2 separate regions of the Homo sapiens genome follow, and region 2 is linked to region 1. The links come from fine-mapping of genetic effects on gene expression. A gene starts in region 1. The other region holds a variant in brackets. All regions are shown on one strand. Distances are between the middles of the regions. Region 1 holds the start of CDIPT (CDP-diacylglycerol--inositol 3-phosphatidyltransferase). Region 2 has its middle 52 kb from the start of LAT.

The links. PIP is the estimated chance that this variant, and not a neighbour inherited with it, causes the effect. A credible set is the group of variants that fine-mapping cannot tell apart.
Region 2: its variant is the best candidate, but not a certain one, in a credible set for the expression of CDIPT in cerebral cortex (GTEx, PIP 0.83).

Annotation. Positions count from the first base shown.
Region 1 is chr16:29,861,921-29,864,824 of GRCh38, reverse strand. It overlaps CDIPT (CDP-diacylglycerol--inositol 3-phosphatidyltransferase), which reads left to right and starts at 1,599. Exons shown (of 6, transcript NM_006319.5): 1 at 1,599-2,010; 2 at 2,105-2,239. The coding sequence starts at 1,968. It also overlaps the pseudogene CDIPTOSP. RefSeq lists an enhancer at 941-1,478 and silencers at 1,527-1,586, 1,597-1,906.
Region 2 is chr16:29,035,834-29,038,737 of GRCh38, reverse strand. It overlaps the pseudogene NPIPB10P. Among named protein-coding and RNA genes, the nearest start is that of LAT, 52 kb to the right of the region's middle. The variant T/G (reference allele first, on the strand shown) is at 1,700.

The DNA of each region.
Region 1 (2,904 bases):
GCACAGGGTTCAAGTGGCAGCAAGCAGTGCACAAAGCCTCCTCCATGAGTTCTGCACTGATCTGGGACAGGTATTCCTCAGAACGAGATAACGAAGCCTGGGAAAGGAAAAGCCGGAGGGGTTCAGCCTGGGAGCTCCCACATGGGAGTGCTGGCTGTGGGAGTTCCCAGGCTGGGGCCTGTGGGTCCAAGGAGCTTGCTCCTGAAGGACTGGGCCTTGAGATTTAGCTAGAAAGCTCTGGACCTGGGGGAGGGGGGTTTGGTGGGGGTTTAGAGTCAGGGCCTAGTGCTGAGAGCTATGAGTCGGGGCTTCAGGACTCAGGGTTGAGGCTAGAGTCTCAGGGCCCGTGGCTCAGACCTGGCACGGGGTGCCTCTGCCTGGGAGGCTTTCACTTCATTACATTCCCACCTCTAGGGTTCCCTGCAGTGCTCACCGGACCTCCTCTCAAGGAGGGTGCAGCTTGAGATGGCCAGCTGCTCTTCTTCTCCCCCTCATTCCCCATCGGAGTGGACGCCATCCCCCTGGGAACAGTCGAAGCCTGAGTTGACCTGAGAAACCAGCCCGCTTTCCCCCAGAACCCAGTCCACCACCATTCCCCGGGCCCAGGTTTAAACAAGGCCTTTAGAGGAAACATCCCGCTGCCTCATTCCCTCTCACAAGAAAAAATAATAATAATAATAAAGGTTGCTTTATATCTTCGGGAGTGAGAGGGAACTCCCGCAACCCCCTACCCCTCACCCCTTCGCCTGGTGGGCCTCTCCTTCCTTCTTCCCTCCCAAGCACCTTCCCAAGCCGAGGCAGCCGACTTGACGCCCCAGACCTGGCAGATGGGTGGAAACCTTGGGCTACTCGGCAAAAGGAGAGACGTGGAGGCCTAAGGACCTCTGGTATAGGTCGTGGGGGATGGAGAATGGGAGATGGGGAGGAAGGCTGGAAAAGGGGGAGCCGGCTCCGTGTCGCTACCGGACGCTATAAAACCCTTGGAGTCTGCAGAGGTTCCGCAGCCTCGTTGCTAGGAGATCAGGGGTTCTAGAACTAAAGACAGAGGAATTTCCTAGCGCGCCCCGTTTGCTCCTCCAGCCTCCCCTCCGTACCCCTCCAGGTGCCTCCTTGAGGGCAGTGACCCCAAGCGCCAGACGCTTGAGAAGCTTGGGAGGATGACGTAGGGTGGAGCCTGCGACCTAATCCTCCCATCACAAGGGGCACGCGAAAAGCAACCCATCTGCAGGGCGCTCTGGAGCCTCTCTAGCCGCCTAGAGCCTGCGAGAGCAAAGGCGGCTGGAGACTTAGGGGGCGGGGAGTAAAGTGAGGACTGCACCAAATCTCCTGGCCTCTTGGGGACGCAAAGACTCAGGAGGAGGAATTTTATCGCCTTATCTTTGCCTCCAGGAAGTCATACCCTCCACAAAAGGAAAGCAGAGATTTTTATTCGGTCTTCTCTTTTACCCTTTCCTTTTCCGTTTCTAACTTTGCTTGACGTTAATGGTTCCTTCCTCCCTCTCCTCCTCTGCGCTTTGGTACGAGCCAAGGGAGAGGGGCGGAGGGAGGAAAAGGGAAAGGAAGCCGACAGGCCTTAAAGGGGCCGCAACTATTTTTTTAAGCCACTTTTTCCTCTCTCCAATTTTGCAACGACGGGCGCGGAGGAGGAGGTTCCCGGAAGCCACGCGCAGCTGGAGCAGCGGCGACCGCAGCTGGAGGCCCGGAGCGCCTGCGGGGCTGGCAGAGGCGAGGGAGGTTGCGGGTAGGAAGGGCGGACTGCGCGCGCCCCCTGCGTCCCGCGCACCTCGGGGCCGGTCCATGCTCCCGACGGCTGCGGGCTTCAGCATCTGGGGCCAGGTTGGGGCGGCGGGGTCCAGGGCGCAGGTGGTGCGGCCGATGCGCCGGGCCGGAGGCTGAGGCCGCGCTGCGGGGCTGGGACAGCACTGGCATCTCCAGAGCAGGCCCGGGGCAGCAAGGGAGGCGCCGCGATGCCAGACGAAAATATCTTCCTGTTCGTGCCCAACCTCATCGGTGAGTGCTGCCCACGGCCCCGGGCCGAACGAGAGGGCGAGGGGCCTTGGCGGGCTCCCTGATCCTGCCCTGTCTCCCCGCGTCCCGTTCCAAGGTTATGCCCGGATTGTCTTCGCCATCATTTCTTTCTACTTCATGCCCTGCTGCCCCCTCACGGCCTCCTCCTTCTACCTGCTCAGCGGCCTGCTGGACGCTTTCGATGGACACGCTGCTCGCGCTCTTAATCAAGGTGACAGACACCCCTCTCAGCCAGCCTTGGGGTTCAACAATCCCCTCCTCCCTTCCCCTGCCTCCTCGGGACCTCAGAGTCAGAGGGCTGTCATTCCCATCTCTGGAAAAAGCAGAACAGGATGGCCTGGGGCTTTTTGTTTTGTGTTTTGTTTTTTTGTTTTTGAGACAGGGTCTCGCTCTGTCACTTAGGCTGGAGTGCAGTGGCGCGATCATGGCTCACTGCAGCCCCCATCTTCTGGGCTCAAGTAATCCTCCCACCTCAGCCTCCTGACTAGCTGGGACTACAGGAGCGTGCCACCACACCCGGCTAATTTTTAAATTTTTGTAGAGACTGGGTCTTGCAGTGTCGCCCAGATTGGTCCCCAGCTCCTAGCCTCAAGCGATCCTCCTGCCTTGCTCCCAAAGTGCCGCGCCCAGCAAGAATGGACTGATTTTGTAGCAAAAGGAATTTAAGCTAGCTCTTGAGAACTCACTGCTTGTGAGAGGTGTGGATTAGCAAGACATGACATGGCGGTGGCGCTGCTGGAGGTCTCTCTGAATACAAGTCCATTCAGGCCAGGGGCGGTGGCTCACGCCTGTAATCCCAGCACTTTGGGAGGCCGAGGTGGGTGGATCACGAGTTCAGGAGTTCGAGACCAGCCTGGCCAACATGGTGAAACCCTG
Region 2 (2,904 bases), 830 kb after region 1:
GTCCAGCGTCTACTCACAGGGGTGGGCTGATGGCTGATAAATCCCAGCAGGAGCCAAATGAGGAGCCAAAAGCGCAGCCGCATGTCCTGGTCCTTTCAGGGCGCCCTGAGGCGGCCAGGACAGAGGTGGAGGTGGCTTAGGGCAGGGGGGAGGGAAGGGGACGGGGACCGGGGCGGATCTGAGTTGGGGAGGGGCAGGGGAGGGGGAGGGGAAGGGGAGGGGGAGGGGAAGGGGAGGGGAAGGGGAGGGGGAGGGGAAGGGGAGGGGGAGGGGAAGGGAAAGGAGAAGGGGGCTGTTGGGCACCTGGAGGAGGTGGAGGAGGAGGAGGAGAAGAAGAAAGGGGTCTGGGAAAGGATCCGGTTCAAATTAAGTTCTCAAGCGCTGGTGGAAGGTTTAGCTACAGGTCACGGAGAAGATCAGGGAAGCAACAGGACACGCGGGGCAAGGGAGCGTGAGGCTTAGGAGCAATCAGAGGGAGACAAAAAGGTTCTGCTATCCGCCAAACCTTCTTCGGTCTGGGCCCTCCCTTAGCAAACCTGGGGCTTTATACTCCCTCTCCACCAATCCCTGATGACCCCGGTGGTGCCTCACAATGGACAATGCCAAGTAGCGCCCGCATCATTCCAATGACCCCTCCCCCATCTCAGTCTCCCACACTCCTCGCAAGGACAGGTCCTCTCTGGAACCTTCACAAACCTGATTTCTGGTCCTCCCCAACCAGCTCCCTGTCCCTGCTTCTGGGCGCTCCTTCCTTCCTGAGCTCCCAGGGTTCCTCAAGGTCACTTTTGGCGACAAAACATAAAAAACAAATGATGGCAGGATGGCAGGAAGAACCTCATACCCAAGCAGAGTGCCAGGTTTTACAGCCTCCGCTCAGCCATTCATATCCTAAGCAACAAAACATCAGCAGGATGCGGAAGGTCCTGATAGTAAACCATCTCCATCACATCCATGTAGCCATCCGTCCATCAACCTGTATCTCAGGAACAAATGTAGATACATTCATTTTAAGCATGCATGGTACATTTACAAAAATTAACCTGACTTATTTTGTTCCAGCAAATCTCAATATATTTGAGAGCAATCAAATCACACAGCACGTTTCTGATCATATAACTGTGCTAGAAGTCAATGATTAAAAGCCAATTCAAAATTATTATTTGCTTGGAAATTCAAAGTGCCCTTATAAGACATAAACATAAGAAAGAATCCAAAATGAAACAAGATTGCCTTTCAACTCAATGATAAGATCATAACATGGCAATAAAATGTCTCCCTCTGACCTGGGAATTCCTCTTTGTGGCACAAGGTTGTGTGATCTCAAATCACCCCTAACCCACCTAGACATTTTAACATCCGAAACCGAGTGATGATGTCCTTATCTATATCATCTTACTGCCTGTGTGTGTGGACTTTAAATTCTGAACCCAAATGAGGGGGAGAAAACCAAGTTGACCTTCATGACTGACCTCTCAGGGATGTCCAAGGAATCTGTGCATTTCAAGAAACAAAGTTCATCAGCTTCTCTCCTAAGGTATTTGCCCACAATACCCAGAGGGCTTGGCAGCATCATGTGTGATGGGTGGGGAGCTCCAAGCAGGTGGGCAGGACCCAGGGGTCTGGTGACCAGGACAGACCCCCACTGTCCATCACCTTTCCTGACCCTGTCCTCAGCTAAACTTCCCACAGGCCTTCTGCC[T/G]GATCACACAGAGTGTGCCCAAACTCACTCAGGCCTCTGGCAGCTGAAAACCACTGCTTTAAATCCCTTTACCATTTACTATGACATAAGGTTATTGTAAACAGGAAATATTCTATTGATGCTACAAATGGAAAGCCAATGCCTTTACCATAAATAGAAAAACAACCCTAAGAAACAAGCAAAACAAAAACAAAACAGGGGCTGGGTGTGGTGGCTCACGCCTGTAATCCCAGCACTTTGGGAGGCCGAGGTGGGCGGATCACAAGGTCAGGAGTTCCAGACCAGCCTGGCCAATATGGTGAAACCCTGTCTCTAATAAAATACAAAAATTAGCCGGGTGTGGTGGTGGGCGCCTTAGTCCCACCTACTTGGGAGGCTGAGGCAGGAGAATAGTTTGAACCCGGGAGGCAGAGTCTGCAGTGAGCCGAGATTGCACCACTGCACTCCAGCCTAGGCGACAGAGCGAGACTCTGTCTCAAAAACAGCAACAACTACAAACAAACAAAAAACAGGGTTAACAAAACTATGGAATTCAATTCTATTTATATGCTGCAGCCATGTTCCAGCCCTAGATTTGGCTGGGCATGGTGGCTCACGCCTGTAATCCCAGCACTTTGGGAGGCTGAGGCCGGCGGATCACGAGGTTAGGAGTTCGAGACCAGCCTGACCAACATGGTGAAACCCCGTCTCTACTAAAAATACAAAAATTAGCCAGGCACGGTGGCACCCGCCTGTAATCCCAGCTACTCAGGAGGCTGAGGCAGGACAATCCCTTGAACCCGGGAGGTGGAGGTTGCAGTGAGCCGAGATCGTGCCATTGCACTCCAGCCTGGGTGACAGAATGGAGTGAGACTCTGTCTCAAAAAAAAAGAAGCCCTCGGATTTCGGTTGTGTTGGTTGTAAAAGGAGAGACCAAGTAAGTGGGGGTTGAAGTCAGATTAGACCAAAAGTGAATGGCAGAGAGTACTATAATGTCCATGAAGGGTTGCTAGAGTCACCGTGATCATAGCCCAAGCAGAGACAGGGAAAGGAAGATGTGAGCAGAGTTTGGGGCCTCGAACATTGGAGGTTACTCGTGCAGCCCAGGAAAGGCTCCCCAAAGCCAAGATCAACCTCCCTTGCAGGCGGTCCCTCATGGAGGCATGGCCAGGCACCTTAGATTTGAGACCAGCTGTGTTGCTGCTGACCAGCTGTGTGACCCTGGG